Linked DNA regions of Homo sapiens. The protein of the gene in region 1 interacts with the protein of each later gene in a biochemical or structural test. Each region holds a gene or a part of one and is shown in the gene's direction. Other genes may lie near its edges.

Region 1 (8,555 bases):
CATACTCAGAGAATTGTCATTTCTCCCATCCCTTCTATCCTTACCCCCAATCTCCCATTCTTTCCAGACTATCCCTACCTATCCACTGTAGGTAACCAATCTCATCAGTTTCTGGTTGATCCTTCCTATACTTGTTTTTCTACAAATGAGAAGATACATGCATATTTTCTTATTTCTCTTTCTTTTTTACATGAAAGGTTAGCATACTATATTTTTCATGGTAGTATTTTTTAAAAGCATGGTAGAATTCTGTCCTTTAAAATTTGATAGAAGTCATCTATGTAACTACCAAGACATGGAGACTTTCAAGAGAGATGTTCTTTGATAATTTATACAATTCCATGGTTATTGGTCTATTCAGAGTGTATCTCTTCTTAAGTCAATTTTTGGTAATTCATGTCTTACCAGGAAAGTTAAGATATTGAGTAGAAGATGCAAATCTTTCTTTAGTTCAGAGAAAATTTCTTCTGCCATATATTTTATTTTCTCCTCTCTCTCCTTGTGGAATTACTGTTATACACATATTAGACCTCTATAGTCTAGCTATCACAGATCATCTTTTCTCTTCTGAATTCCAGGATAAATTTTCAAGCTTGAGTTCTGGGTCACACATTCAGCTTTCTTCGGTTCCCAATCTTCTGTTCATTGTTTCCATTGAGGTTTAAATTTAGCAAGCTAAAAATGTTTCCTAATTTCAGTTTGTAATTTCTTAATGATTCCTTGTAATTTCAGTTTGTAATTACATAATCCACTACACTTGCAAATACAATATCCTCCCAAATATTATTAAAAACATAAAAGAGAAAGATGTTTAATTTTTTTTCCTCTTCTTCTTGTGGAAATTTCATTTCAAAGGAAACTAATTTTCTCTGACCATGTTCCGTTCTGTTGAAAGTCTGAATCTTTTTGTGTTTTCATATCATTACTTTTTCTCTCTCTGTTTATTTTTACCAGGAGGGAGTCTATATTTATTCTGGAATAGAAGTTGAGGTGGTTCTCCTGATTATCATGAATAGTCAGTAAGCATTCAGTCAAATAAATAAGTGGAGAGAGGTATTTTAAGCAGAGAGGACAGAGAGAGGAAGGGCATGAAGATATAAAAGCCCAATGTCAGCCAGGCACAGTGGCTTGCACCTGTAATCCCAGCACTTTGGGAGGCCCGGGTGGGAGTATTGTTTAAGCCTAGGAGTTTGAGACCTACCTGGGCAACACAGCAAGACTCCATTTCTACCAAATTAATAATAATAATAATAATAATAATAATAATAATAATAATAATAATTAGCTAGGCATGCCTGAGGCAGGAGGATGGCTTGAGCCCAGGAATTTGAGGCTGCAGGGAGCATTGATCATGCCACTGCACTGGGTGACAGGAAGACCAATGTGGATTTTCTTTTCTCACATATTTTATGTACTGGGATATAATTTACAAAGAGCAGAATATGTAACTTTTAAGTGAAGATCTCACTAACTTGTGCATATGCAGAAACCATTTAACCACCATCAAGATAAAAACACCACCCCAGAAAGTTCACTCATGTCCACTTTCTGGCTAAATTGTTCCCTTCCCCCAAGATAACCATCATTCTGACTCCTATCACTATAAGTTAGTTTGCTGGTTCTTGAACTTCATATAAATGGAATCATGCACTATATTTTCTTTTGTGTCTGGCTTCTTTTGCTCAGCATCATTTTTGTGAGATTCACCTATGTGGACAAATGCATCAGTCATTTATTCCTTTTTACTGCTGAGTAGCATTCCAGTGTACGAATATCCCACAATTTAACAAAAAATGCATTCTACTATTAATGATATTTAGGGTGTTTCCAGTTTGGGGCTATTATAAATAAAGTTGCTACAGTCATTCATATATATGTTTCTGTGGGGATATATACATTCATTTATCTTGGATATATACCTAGGAGTGGAATTTCTAGGTCACAAGTAGATGTATATTTAACTTTATTAGATACTGCCAATCAGTTTCCCAAACTTGTTGTGCCGTGTTACACTCCTACAAGCAATATATGAGTGTTTCAGTTGCTCCACATCCTTGCCAACATTTGGTGTTTTCAGTATGAATTTTAGCTATTCTAATGACTGTAAAGTGGTAACTCATGGTTTAAGTTTGCATTTCCCCAAAGACTCATCATGTTAGCACCTTTTCGTGTGTTTATTGGCCATGCGCATATCTTTTTTTTGTTGAAGTGTCTGTTCAAGTCTTTTGCCCATTTTTAAATTGGATTCTTTGTCTTTACTACTTTTGAGTTGTGGGAGTTCTTTATATATTCTGGCTATAAGTTACTAGAAATCTTACTATCCACTGGTGGATAGTAATGATGTCAACTGAGATAGGGAAGGCAGGAGAAGGAGTTTGGGAGAAGATGAGGAATTTATTTTAGGTCATGGAGTAATTAAAAGGCTTTTGGATTGATTATCTAGGTATGGGTGTACAGAAAACACTTGGAATTACAGATCTGGAGCTCAAGAGAGAAGTCTGGGCGATAGTTTGGGAGGGATCAGTATGATGGGAATGGATGAGATTGCCCAGGGAGAAGAGAAGCAGCCTTATCTGAAATCTCAAGCATTGTAATGTTTAAGAGATGATGAAGAAATGAAGCCAGAAGAAGAAAACAGAAATCATGGTGAGAGGTGGAGGAGAAGCCAAGGAGGGGATTTTCAAGAAGGAGTGGTGCCAAATGCTGTAGTGAGGTAAGAAAATGAAACCATTGGAGTTGACATTTGGGGTTTCCCTGGTGGTCTCTGTTCAGAGAATTGAGGAATAAATGTAAGATGAGGAAGTGGAGGCAGGGGTAGACTCCTCTTTGAAAACATTAGGCAGTGAAAGGAAGGAGAGTGATTTCAAAGAGCCATAGATTTTAAAACAAAGCAACAAAGGAGTTGTAGAAAGAGGTACATAATCAGATGCTTAATGAGTGACAGAGGTACCTTTCAGAGTTTTTCCAGCAGCTTTGGGGAGGTGGGAAATGGAGAATGGATAGGTGTCAGGTGCTGATCAGATCTGTGACAGGGAGACGCAGACAGAACTCAGTGTTGACGGCGTGGCATAACATGCAGGCTCCACATCTGGGCCACAGCTGTAGGTGGAGAGGAGAATGCCTACTTCTGAGGGGATGTACGATGGGACCAAGTTGGCTTCTTGGGATGCTCAGAGCCCTAGGAGTGAGCACCAATGAGCCACTCTTTTGCAGTTTTCCTCCATTTTCAGAAGGCAGGCATCCCATAATTTCTCTGGCAGATTATTTGCCTTTCCAAGTGCTCTCCTAATCCAACATTTCCATCTGGCACACAGTGTCATTCTTGCTCCTGAATTCCTGATTCCAGAGCATTTCTGCCATTTTCTTCCTTTGCACAGTGTGTACCTTCCCTCTTCTCCTCTTCTTCCAAATGTCCATATTTTTGTGGTGGAAAAAGTGGGGACAGGGGAGACAGAAGACTGGAATCCTTATCAAGTCCTCTCTCAGCCCTTGGTGGCTCTGGTTCCTTCTCTGTGAAAGGGTGACGTGTGGGGAAGGGGTTGGGGATGAGGTAGGAGAGGGGGTCTGAGTTCCTTCCCACGTCTAACGATGGCTGGAACCAGGCCTCTGTGTTCAACCAAGGGTACTTTCTGTTTCTGTCCATTTGGGGAAGTTGCTTTTTCTTGGTATTTCGGGAGTCAGGAAAAGAAAAGTCATTGGTGTTCATATCTCTCAAAGCCTCAGGTAGGGCTGCGGCTTTTGACCAACAATAACGTATGACCATGACCTTGTGGCCGAGTTTGCACGCCTCTAACAGATATTATGACACAGTTCCATTCAATAGTGGAAGTGGAGATTTCAGCGTTGCCCTTTGTTAACCCACAAATGAAGTGCTACTCTTCCATTGTGAGGGCTGTCGGAGCAGTAGCCAACCTTCTTATCCCCATTTTTTAAACGAGGGAAAGGAGGCATAGGAAGCGCAGTGTCTTGTGGGATTCCCTGGGGAGTCCTTCCAACTCTTGGTAGAGCATCATCTGCAACGTCGTCTGGGGGAGAAAAGGGGGAGGCAAGAAGAGGGCCTTGACCCTGGAGGCAGGAACTCCCGCACACCCTCACTCCCTTCCCCAGGGGCTGGGGAAACCACTCAGGTGACAGTAGCCTTGGTGCCGGCCAGGGAGGGCGGGAAGTCCAGCCAGAGGCTGGAACAGCAGTGCTGAACGCCGGGACTGGCTGGTATTTCTATGAAGGTTCCTGCAGAAGGATGCGGGTCAAGGTGCCCGTCTGCACAGCAGTAGTGCAGGCATTTTAAGGGTTAAGGGCACCCAAAGAAAATAGAAGTAGGGGCCGGGCGCAGTGGCTCACGCCTGTAATCCCAGCACTTTGGGAAGCCGAGGCGGGCGGATCACGAGGTCAAGAGATCGAGACCATCCTGGCCAACATGGTGAAACCCCGTCTCTAGTAAAAATACAAAAAATTGGGCGTGGTGGCGCGCGCCTGTAGTCCCAGCTACCCGGGAGGCTGAGGCAGGAGAATCGCTTGAACCCGGGAGGCGGAGGTTGTGGGGAGTCAAGATCGTGCCACTGCACTCCAGCCTGGCGACAGAGCGAGACTCCATCTCAAAAAAAAAAAAAAAAAAAAGAAAGAAAATAGAAGTAGGAAGAGGAAGTGGGTCGCAGTGAGAGAAGGAAGCAGCTCGTCGGAGCTTCCTCTTTCTCGTCTTTCCCCTAAGCCCCTACCCCAGACCTGCCCCCCTGCTCCGCCCAGCCCTCCTGCGGGGCCAAAGCCGCGCTTCCGACGCGGGGGCCTAACCTCCCCTTACTCCTTGGGGGTCGCTGGTGCTCCGCGCTGGTGCCCCTCGGGCCACTGCCATGGACCGGCCAGGGTCTGCTTCTTCCGAGGGCTGGCGGGTCAGAGCCGGGGCTGCTTCTCAGACGCCTTGCGGCCTCGGGGGCGTGACCCAGAGGATGTGGGGCCGGGCGCGCACCTGGCTGACGCTGCCGGGCCGCCAGGTGGCTGGAGAGGCCGGCTCCGCGGTCAGCCCCGCCCCATTAGGCCCCGCCCCCTGACAGGCTCCGCCCCGCCCGCCGGAGGAGCCCAGGCTGGGCAGATGCTGCGGCTCGCCGCGCGGCTCCAGCTGGGGCGCGGTGGTCCCGACGGTCACCCGAATCGCAGGGAGTCGCCGCTGGAGAGGGGCTCGGCGCCCGGCGGGGACTGCAGGTGTGTGACTGGGCGGCCAGGGCGGATGCGGAGGGCACGCATGGGAGCTCCAGGCAGAGCTGGAGCAAGCTGGGGACCGTCGGGGAGAGTGGGCTCCGCGAGCAGCCGCCGCAGCCCGAGGGCTGGACAGATCCTGCTATCTTCCGGCCCCGTGGACCTGGCCCACCGCGGGGGCAGCGGGTCTGCAAACCTGCGCTCCAGATAACCCCAGAGACTTAAGGGGCGTCGCGGGGACCACTTATCGTTATCCGGGTAACCTCTGCTGGGCGGCTCTGCGCAGCTGTGTCCTCAGCCTCCTGCCTCTGACACAGGACGCCCTGTGTCGTAGGGTCAGGTCCCCTGCCCGCTCCAGCGGGGAACTGTCCGTGAGCGTGGGCATCAGGGCTCTTGTGCCGTCAGAACCTGGGAGTCATGGAAGTGCCCGCGTAAGGCGCCCTCCGTCGAGCCTCACTCAGCCTGCTAGTTAGCCAGCCTTGGGCCCAGACGCGGCTGCTGTCCTAGAGAACTGCACGCTTTCTGCTCTCAGAGGATCTGTGTTTACACACTGGACATCCCCGCGTGACTCGTGTGTGTGTGTGTGTGTGTGTGTGTGTGGGCATGCGCATGTGCGCGTGCTGGCCCATCCCGGCCTGGGGTAAATACACAAAAAGTTCAGGTCAGTAGGAGGAAGGAGATTGTTCAGAAGGAAAAGGAAGGCGAGGTTAAAGCAGCAGGATGTGGTATAAAGCGAGTTAACAAGACTCGGAGTAGAGAGGAGGGGTGGGTTTAGGCAGAATAAGGGCTAAAAGTAGGCCAAGCCTGCCTCCAAGGTCCTCTCTGGACTGACACCCTCGTTTTCCTTCTGTGTCTTCTCATCCACCCCACACTTTCCTTCCTGCCCTCAGGACCACCTGTAAGGCACTGGCTCCCAGAGCTGACTGCAGGTAGGGCTCTCTTGGAGCCAACCCTACAACGTGGCTTTCCAGGGATGGGATCTGGAATCTGTAGTTTTCAAAACTTTGAATGAGCTCCTTAAGTGATGATGCTGAAGCCGTTGCTTGGGAACCATGCATGATGTGGAAAAGAGACCCAAGTTCCAACCGGATCCAGCTGTGTGACCTGCAGCATCACACTGTCCCCCAACCCAGCCTCAGTCTCCTGATTCATAAAATGGGCTGTCATACTGACCCATAGAGCTGTGTGGAATTATTATTATTATTATTATTGAGACAGGGTCTTGCTCTGTCACTCAGGCTGGAGTGCAGTGGCGTGATCATGGCTCACTGCAGCCTTAAATTCCCAGGCTCAAGCAATCCTCCGCCTCCGCCTCCCAAGTAGCTGGGATTACAGGTCAGCACCACGGCGCCCAGCTAATTTTTGTATTTTTTGTAGAGGCAGGGTTTTGCCATGTTGCCCAGGTTGGTCCCAAATTCCTTGAGCTCAAGCGATCCGTCTACCTTGGCCTTCCAAAGTGCTGGGATTATAGACATGAGCCACTGTGCCTGGCCCAGTGTGGAAAATTAAGTGAGGCATGTATGATGAGAACGGCTGCACGTGGGAGATGCTCCGTGGATGTTTGTAGAACGCTGGCTTCCGTGTTTCCTCGTTGTGGCTGTGGTGGTGTGGGTCTTTGCCTGTGGACCCGTGGAAGACAAAGAAGACAGTTTTGGATGGTCAAGCTACTTTCTTGCTTCAGGGCTCCCTCCCCTGCTTTTTGAAGCCTCACAAACCAGGACTGTGAGGGCAGGAAGGCTTGGGGTCTTTGTGTGCTGAGCCTCATTAGGGTTTTAAGAACCTCCCTCCTTTCATCTCTAGCTTACGAGAGGGATGATTCATTATCTTCCCTCCTCAGGCTGCAGTAGAAGCAGACAGTCTCTGCCTCCCTGCTTGCCTTTCCTCCCTCCCATTCACTGTTGATTATTGCCCTCAAGAATAACAGGTTGCCCAGCTACTCGAGAAGCTTAAGTGGGAGGATTGCTTGACCCCAGGAGTTCGAGGCTGCAGTGAGCTATGATCGCTTCACTGCGCTATAGCCTGGCAGACACAGAGAGACCCTATCTCAAGCAAACAGACAAACAAAAAAAAAAAAAGAAGAAGAAGAAGAAGAATAGGTTGGATGCTAACTGGTGGCACTGGGTGACAAGAGCATTTGGGGTTGATGTTGGCATGAGGATGAGAAGGCAGGGGTGCAGGCTGCTCCATACCCCTGTGTTAGCCATCCATCAGGGGCCTGCTGGCTGAGGAGTGGGAGAGGAGGAGAGCCAGGATCCTTTTTGCCTGGGTAGCCTAGAGTTTGGAAGCCCCAGCTTGGGTTCCACTGAGCACTCAAGCTGTGCTGACTTGGCCTTTCTTCAAAGATGCTCATCCCAAGGGACTGAGCTGCGTGGCCCTGTGGGACCTCTGAGAACCAGAATGCCTGTTTGGCCTCAGCTGGTGAGCTAAAAGCCTGAACCAATGTGTTAAGAAAGAAAGCTGGCCAGGCATAGTGGTTCATGCCTATAATCCCAGCACTTTGGGAAGCCAAGGCTTTGAGGCCAGGAGTTCGAGGCTGCAGTGAGCTATGATCGTGTCACTGCATTCCAGCCTGGGCAACAGAGTGAGACCCTGTCTTTACAAAAACAAAAAATAAAATTTAAAAAACAGAGAAAGCTCCTGGAAGAAGAAGATAGAGTGATCCTTAACAAGTCAAGGGAGAGGTGTTTAATTTGATTTTTGAGCCTCAGATATAGATGGGGTGGGAGGAGAGAAAGGAAAGAGTACATCTGACTTCTGCCCAAAGGGAAGATGATACCCTCCCGTAGCAAACATATATTACATAGTAAAATATTTCATCAATTTGAAGATGTACATATTTTCACATTTTAGCACTGAATGTGCTAATTGTATGAATTTCACTGAAATCAAGGTGCATTTTACTGTTTATGGCATCTTCCAATTATAATAGGCAACAATATTTCTTCCTTATTGCCACACAAAATAACGGTGCATCTTACAATTGATGGCATCTTAGATTCTATTAAATACAGTGCACTTTTTATAGATTTGGGGGATGTGTTAGCGATACACAGGTCCACACAGAATTATGTTGTTCTCATAGCTTTCATACATTAATTTTTCCAGTAGCTCTACCTTCTAAGTATCAGAACTTTTCATTGTATTATGTTTTAAAAGAAATCTTTGTAAAGTATGTTGCTTGCATTTATAAATGTAGCATGTTGGATATGATTGAATAATTTCTTGAAATTTTCATCAAATGGTTCTGGCCTGCCATTCTCTTTTGTACCCTGTGTCTTTTTGTACATTCATGCTTCGTTCTCTTTCATCTTTCTCCCTGTCCTTTTCTCCTTTGGCTATGACTTCATGGTGTTGGGCACTGTGCT
Region 2 (8,380 bases), on another chromosome or scaffold:
AATAATAATAACAACTCTCTTTTAAATGTTTTACTGTTTTGTTAATCACTTGCCATGTGCCAGGCATTGTGCAGAGAGGTTTGTATCATTCGCATGTAGCCCTCATATCCCTTTGTGGTACATAAAACCCCTGTTTTACTGCAGGCAAACTGATGCCCAGAGAGACGCATCGAGTGTTCCAGTCAGGAAGCCAGGCCCTCAGGCGCCAAAGCACGTGTTTCAGCTCCTGTGCCTAAAAACGTGGTCCGGAGCTTTGTGTTAGCTTAGGTTTCTCTTAGATTTAAAACAAAAAAAAAAGTGTTGTGTTTTATTTTTTTGTTTTGAGACAGGCGTCTCGCTCTGTCACCCAGGCTGAAGTGCAGTGGTGCGATCTTGGTTCACTGCAACCCCAACGTCCCGGGTTCAAGCAATTCTCGTGCCTCAGCCACCTGAGTAGCTGGGATTACAAACATGTGCCACCGCGCCCAGCTAATTTTTGTATTTTTAGTAGAGACGAGGTTTTACCACGTTGGCCAGGCTGGTCTCAAGCTCCTGGTCTCAAGTGATCCGCCCGCCTCTACCTCCCAAAGTGCTGGGATTACAGGCTTGAGCCACCACACCTAGCCAAAAAAAAAAAGTTTTTAACAGTACTTGTAGATACCCTACTTAACAGGAAAGCATGTGGGCACCAGTGACCACTGTAGGATTCTTTGGAGAGACCTAAATAAGGCTGTAGTCTATGCCAGTGTAGCTTGAAGGAGATATATTAGTAATTTATGACTTCCATCAGAATTTTCAAGTACTCCTTCCAGCAGTTATGTTTAGTTTATTTTTTGAAATTACTAATACTTTTTCCCAATATTCCAATTCCATGATTCAAGGCAGATATCAAAGAATGTTAATCTGTGTCTGGAAAAATTAAAAACATAACATTTGACATATATTTAGACATCAAGATCTAGGTCTAGATCTAGTTTAATAAGTCCTACAAGTTCTCCAAAGTATATTTAAATAGCTTCAGTGATTAAATGAGTTCTCTTTTGACTGCACACTTTTGCTGCCTCTTACCCAGTTTCTTCCATTATATATTTTCCTGCTCAATTGCATGCATAATAAAGTGAATAATTCTCTGTCTTGTTAGTCAACTGTGTCTTGTTTCAGAGTCAAATTTGAAGTTTTCAGTCATGGTCAGTAGTGATGTGCATCATTGTCAGCTGTTCTTTAAATGTGAATATAAAGTATATTGAAAATTCATATAAATTAGCCCCATTTTGAAAACGAAGGAAGCAGAGACTGAGAAAAATGAGTGGCCACGTTTTCATGGCTGATGAGTGAGGTTCCAGCTCATGCCTGGGGGTCTCTGACTCTGGTTTTTGGTGCTCTCCTCTGCTCCACACTTGCTCTCTGATTTGCTTATAACCTTAAGGCAAGTTTCGTGACCTGTTGGAACCTCAGTTTCTTCATCTCGAAAGCAAGGAGGTTGGCTTTAAGAATTCTTTCTGCTCTAAAATATCATTCCAGGCTGAAACCACATTAAAGCAGTCCTAACTTGAACCTGTGCCTCTGAGGCATCTCTGTCTCTCTGTAGTGCTGTGAACGATTTAACACCCTGTGTATTTGTATTTAACTAAACTGTATAAATGAGTCACTTAAACTTAAAACAATTATAAAAAATGTTTTTAAGTATTAACACTTTTTCAGCAATTAATCCATTTTATATGACAGCTGTATTCTAGTCATGGAACATAAATCTTATACTAGAAAAAGAGATCTGAAATTAAATATACTTGAGCACTATAAGAATTCACCTTGGGCCAGGTGCAGTGCCTCATGTCTGTAATCCTAGCACTTTGGGAGGCCGAGGCAGGCAGATCACGAGGTCAGGAATTCGAGACCAGCCTGGCCAACATGGTGAAACCTCAATCTGTACCAAAAATATAAAAAAGTAGCTGGGCGTGGTGGCACGCCTGTAATCCTAGCTACTTGGAAGGCTCAGGCAGGAGAATCGCTTGAACCCGGGAGACGGAGGTTGCAGTGAGCCGAGATGGCACCACTGCACTCCAGCTTGGGCGACACAGAGACTCTGTCTCCAAAAAAAAAATAAAAGGCATCTTGATGATGCTGAAATAATTAATACATTGCTGTCCTCAAATTTTTCTGTGGTCCATAACAGTGCCCAAAAATTGAAATGCTTACAAGCTGGTCAAGGAGTTGTCATGATATATAATCCCCACAGAAGCGCACCTGTAGTCCCAGCTACTTGGGAGACTGAGGCAGGATAATCGCTTGAACCAGGAGGTGGAGGTTACAGTGAGCCGAGATCGCGCCACTGTACTCCAGCCTGGCGACAGAGTGAGACTCTGTCTCAAAAAAATAAATAAAATAGAGTAATTAATAAATAAAAGTGTTGCAGGTTAGCCTAATTCATTAAGCATTCAGTATGCTCCCAAAACTCCTCCAGGTCCTGAAAACACAAATGCTTCCTCTAAGTCCCTCTGGCTGCTGTAATAGGTAAATGGATAGCGGCAGTCAGGTGTGATGAATAGAATCACAAAATATGCTCAAAATGCCTAGGAAGACTCTACCTGCGGCTGCAGGGAGTACTTCCAAAGAGAGGATGACTTAGTTGCCAATGACTGAAATGTACTGAGTACATACTAGGTTCTTTACATAAATCTTTAATTCCCTTATCACCTTAGAAGGTAGGTCATTCTGGTCTCATTCTTCCACAAGGAGATTTCAGCCCCTAAGGCTACCTAAGTGTTGGAGTCAGAATTCAAACCCCATGCCATCCAGCTGCAGGACACATCTGGTCTCTTGTGTAAGCTGCGTTTTAAAGGAATGTCTAGAGAAAGGAGACTCAAGGGAAGTCAGCTGAGAATGCAGGAAAAGAAGACACGGGCCCCTGAGAGCATCACACTGGCCTTTGGCTTGGCACATGAATGAAAGTAGAAGCAATGCGACTGGAACTTCGTAGAAATAAGATTCCTTTTCCCATTGTAGATATTTTGCTTCCTTTTCTTCTGTTTACTAAAAGAAAAATTCTAAAACCCAAATTAATCTTGTCTTTTTCAGTAGCCCTTTGGATGGCTATGTTCTAGCTGTCCTCTAATTTCAGAAATGTCCTTTGGATATAGATGTGATTTCTGGAAGTAGTCAAGTTTATTTAAGTTTTTGAGTCTTAAGTGACCTCCCCCCCACCCCCTCCCCATAGCCAAATTTATTGATTACACTTTGGGTCTCTACTAAAGAGACTTGTTTTCCGCTGTCATGAACTGCTTCTGAAGGCAATTCCAAAAGAAACAAGCACATATGCTGATGAGCAGGACAGCCCCTTTGGGACAGTTGTGGCCTCTGGAGAGAGCCTGTTGAAAGGCAACTTTAATTTGGATGTAGAAATGCCAGCATGTGGCTATTGCCCCCTGTGGCCAACTCAGATTGGCGTGCTCACTACTCACTGCCCCAGGGAACTAGGGGGGCGTTTTTTCAGGTCTGCCCTTCACTCTGGGGTGACCGAATGTTTCAGACACAGTCAAGCAAATAGAGTGCCCGTAAACATCACACCTTCTGGAGTCAAACTGTTCTGTTTACCAGATCAAGCTTAATTAAATGCCTAATTGGCCATTGAACAATCTGATTACATTAGGTTTCATTTACCACAGTTTCCAGTTCTAGTGCACCCGAAAGACAGGACAAGGTTAAAACTGGTAAGTAAATGTAGACGAGAGTTGTAAAATTCTTACAAGGAAAGTCTTAAGACTGATGAACATTTATATTCATGATTAGATTTCCTGGATTTGCGAAACCTGGCACGGAACAGTATTTGTTGGCCAAACAACTAGCAAAACCCAAAGAGAAAATTCCCATCATTGTAAGTTTGTTTATTTTTGTTTGCTTTCTTTCTGATTAAGCTCTTTCTTATACCGTACTTTAAAGCTAAGCGAGTTATTCATCTTTTGGAAAGTATTTTTAAATATATTTAATGCCCCACATAACTGATAATATATGTTAGTGTTGTAGGAGTACTGAAGATAATTAACACAAATTAATGCCTGTCATTATATTGTTTATTCTTTATCTTTCAGACTTTTAGTATTGAACAAATATACTATTTTGATCATTTTTTTCTAAAGTGTCTTGAAGTGTATTTTACATAGTTTTTCTGCCAGCCCTATATGTTTAACTGATGAACTCAATTCAAATATTTATGTTTCTTCCCTTGTAAAGTACATGTATGTTATCAGAATAAGGTACCCTTTCAGATATATGGGTAATAGTGTTTTTGGTAATAGTGTTTTTTCCAGTAAACCAGCTGTCAAATTGAGATAAGGAGCTACCAAATGGAAGCTGGGAGTTAAAGACATCATTGAGAATATCTGTCTTAGAATTACTTGGTTATTGCATAATGTGACACAAGCCCTTCGGTTTCATTCCACATTTTGATTGGTGGTAGATTTTCTGTCTAGGTGATATTTAGTTGTAGATTCCCAAATGAAATTCTGGAAAAGAGAACTGTAGCTATCTTCTGATCCTATTGACTTAACCCTGTAACAATTAGATTGGGAACCTGAAGCCTTGAGTGTTCTCATCCTGGACTCAATCGAGGATGAGGAAACATCTGGTCTTATTCTGTAGTCTTTGGAAACTTGATAAAATTGCAGGAATAGTATTAGATTCTCTAATTACTTGTGCCTGCATGTTTGAAAAACTCCAAATCCTGGAAGCCTCCAAGCTGAAGAGCTGTAACCAAGAGCCCTTTTTATGCTTTTTCCCTCAAAGCAAATTTGGGATAATTAACTTCTGAGTAGTTATATTAAAGATTTTTTTTTCCTGTTTTCTCTGGACTTAATAAAAATTGAACATGTACCATTATTCTTTTCATGACATTTAAAACTCCTCAAAATCAAGAGCGCACAGCTCTGCCTCAGTTTTGTTTTTTTGTTTGTTTGTTTGTTTTTAAGACAGAGTCTCACTCTGTCACCCAGGCTGGAGTGCAGTGGTGTGATCTTGGCTCACTGCAACCTCTGCCTCCCGGGTTCAAGCAATTCTCCTGCCTCAGCCTCCCGAGTAGCTGGGATTACAGGCATGCACCACCACGCCTAGCTAATTTTTTTTGTATTTTATAGTAGAGACGGGGTTTCACCATATTGGCCAGGCTGGTCTTGAACTCCTGACCTTGTGATCCGCCCACATTGGCCTCCCAAAGTGCTGGGATTACAGGTATGAGCCACTGCGCCCGGCCTGCCTCACATTCTTAAAGGGGACTTTGTCCCAGGTTTGCAGTGGTGGTACAGAGCTAAGGGTTCCAGCCTTTCATTGACCGGCAAGTTTTAAGTAGAACTGCACCCATGCACCCAGTAGGCAGGTCTGCCTGTGTGGGCGTCTATACATGGAAGAAGCTGAGGAAAGCCACCGCGTCTTCAGGAGGCCCAGAGAAAGCAGAGACTAACTCTTTGCTCTAAAAGTGCAGTAACCTTGCCCACTCATGAAACAGAGCCCCGTGAAATTGGGCCTTAGCCAAGCACAGTTGCTGCTCTCGGCCCACTCACTGAGGGAGGTCCCGAAAGTCATCTCCTCTGCAGCTTTCAGCTAGTTTCTTGGATCTGGGCTCTCCCTGAGGGGGTTATAGTAATTGTTCTCAGAGATTTTAGTCTCTTTTTAAACTACTCTTATCCTTGGAGTAGGTCACCTTCCTGACCTAACAGCCTCTGAACTTTAATATCCCAATCCGCTTTTCCCATCTTCCTCTTAAAAAAAAAAATTAGGACTGGGTATACCTTTTTTTCCTTTTTATGTCTGTCTGGCCTTGCCTCTCTGAGGTCTCAGCCGAAACAAATCTCTCTTCCTTCAGCGCAATCTGTGTGATTTTTCTCATTTTCTTTTTACTTTCTTATGGTACTTTTTCAAGTCTGCAAGAATAAAACCTGTTCCATAAATTATTTCATTCTCCTTGAATCTCTGAATGAATCTCTGAGTGAATCTGCTTCCTGAATAGTGGTCCTTTTACAGTCCATGTGTTTGTTTTTTCATTCTCTTCTTGGATTATAACTCAATTATTTTTCATTTTCAAGCCAAGAAGATAGATAACATTCTCAGTATAATAAGGACTTCTATTGCTCTGAAATGTGTTTTGATAAGAGCTACTGTCCTGCAGTCTGAACCTCTAGAATCTGTCATTGTGATCAAAGTTTATGAAATGAATGAGGCAGAACCAACTTGAGACTATTGGTGACTCAGGTAGTGATTCCAGAAGCCTGTACATGAGCTCCAGCATCCAGGTTCCTCTGCAGCTGCCCCCATGGCCTTGGATGCTGTTTTAAATAAGATGAAAAAACCAGGTTTGGGACAGCAGACCTATTGTCACCTAGCAGTGCCTAGAAGAAATGATCCTCAGGCTCAAAACTTACACGAGGTCTCTACACCCCCACATAGAATTTAGCTGGTTTCCCTTCCTCACCTCCCACCACAACTAAAACCCCAGTGAGCTAGTGTAAGCCTCGCCTGAATTTGTGAACTTTTGCCCTAGTCACAGATAGAAGAGAAGGCCAGTGAGAAAAGAATGGAGGCCTACCCTCTTCAGGCAAGCCTTGCCCAGGTGGACGTGATACCCGGGGGTTGGAAGTGAGCCAGCCCACTGTGCTTAGGCACATAGCAGTCCACGGAAGAAAACAGCTAGCCTGGTTCTTGCTTTTAAGATGTAGTACCTCCCCCTCCCCCCACCTTGCCACTAGTAGTAAAACAATGACTATCAGGCTCTGGCCAATCTGATTAATCGTTTCTATGAGCCAGAACAATGCTACTCAAAGTATGGTCCACAGACCACTTGCCCATCTGAAAACTGCTTGTTCCTGATCCACCGTGAGATAGGTACAGTACATGAGAATATTTTGAAAACTTGAGGACAATTTGGTATTGTTGAAAAATCAAAATGTGTAATGTTATATTTCACCAAACTATTAGTCTGTGATAGATTCGAAATTTTTAAAAACTAGTCCTTCATCACGTGTAGCTTGAGACAGCTAGACTAGAAAGAAACATTGTCTTGTAACCAGCACTGTCCTTGGGAGAGGGAAGCTGGTGTCTCCTCTCCATGGGCTGAGCTACTCACGTGGGAGCAGAAGGGTTTCCCACAGGTGTGTTCTTTAAACATAATATCTAACAGGAACAGAAACCATTGAACCATTTATGTACCTTTCAAAGAGGAACAAGAATGACCCTCCAAAGGACTTCTCATTCTGAAAAGAATTACTTGCTGATTCACATCAATTGTATTTATTATTTTTCCATGTAACAAAATTACTTCTTTCTGGAACATTGGCATAGGTTGGAGATTATGGCCCAATGTGGGTTTATCCTACCTCTACTTTTGACTGTGTGGTAGCAGATCCCAGGAAAGGCTCCAAAATGTATGGTCTAAAGAGCTACATCGAATATCAGCTAACACCTACTGTAAGTATCCACGTTATCAAAAGCAGAATCATGTTTGGATCACTGATTGCAGCTTGCTTTTTTCTTCATTTTCTAGAGTTGGCATTGGTAACCTTTTCTCTTTCCCTTATTTTGTAGAACACTAATCGATCTGTAAACCACAGGTATAAGCACTTTGACTGGTTATATGAGCGTCTCCTGGTTAAGTTTGGGTCAGCCATTCCAATCCCTTCTCTTCCAGACAAACAAGTCACAGGTGAGTGTGTGTAATGCTAAACCCAGGATGACAAATAGAAAGACTCCAGTCAGATTATCTTCCTGTAAGTCAGTGATGGCATTTTCCATCCTGTAGAGCAGCAGGATGCAGGAGTTGGAAACAGTAATTAAATACAGCTATGAAGAGAGAACCATTGCATGTTGTACATCTATCTGGAAGTTGCCTAAACGTCTCACAAGAACGTTTAATGTGCAAATCACAGGTTTTGGTATGTGTCTGGAATTCCAGCAGTCATTGTCTTCATTGCTGTACCTTTTCTACAAAAGAAATGTGTACATTTAAAATATGTGAAAAATGACACCTGAAAAAATAGAAATAATTCAAATAGCCTAAAATGGAAATAAAAATGTATGACCCACATGATGCAAACAGGTTATGCAGATGAGCTGCATTATTTCATTAGATGAGTGAGCACTGGACAGAGAAGCCACAGAACTACTAAGTGTTAATGAAGGAAGAAGCTGCCAGGTTTTCTACTTATTTTGATTATTACCCTCTCCCTTTTCTTGTTTTTTAAAAGTGCCATTTTCTATTTATTTTGATTATTACCCTCTCCCTTCTCTTGTTTTTTAAGTGCCACATTCCCTCCCCTCCCCCAGCCCCAAGAATCTTTTGGTAAGTAACCCATAGTGTTACTAGAGCACCTTGTAAGTATGCAGGGCACCTTGTAAGTATGCAGGTAGAAAGGGTTTGTTT

What was found.
Region 2: the proteins of PIK3R5 (region 1) and SNX9 form a complex in vitro, tested with the Homo sapiens proteins (one study listed by BioGRID).

What each region holds. Positions count from the first base shown.
Region 1 is NC_000017.11:8,962,237-8,970,791, reverse strand, and holds the start of PIK3R5 (phosphoinositide 3-kinase regulatory subunit 5), read left to right. Parts: upstream 1-5,084; 5' UTR 5,085-5,196; intron 5,197-8,555. UniProt on the Homo sapiens protein: Regulatory subunit of the PI3K gamma complex. Required for recruitment of the catalytic subunit to the plasma membrane via interaction with beta-gamma G protein dimers. Required for G protein-mediated activation of PIK3CG.
Region 2 is NC_000006.12:157,902,363-157,910,742, forward strand, and holds part of SNX9 (sorting nexin-9), read left to right. Parts: intron 1-3,765; coding exon 3,766-3,850; intron 3,851-7,302; coding exon 7,303-7,428; intron 7,429-7,545; coding exon 7,546-7,663; intron 7,664-8,380. UniProt on the Homo sapiens protein: Involved in endocytosis and intracellular vesicle trafficking, both during interphase and at the end of mitosis. Required for efficient progress through mitosis and cytokinesis. Required for normal formation of the cleavage furrow at the end of mitosis.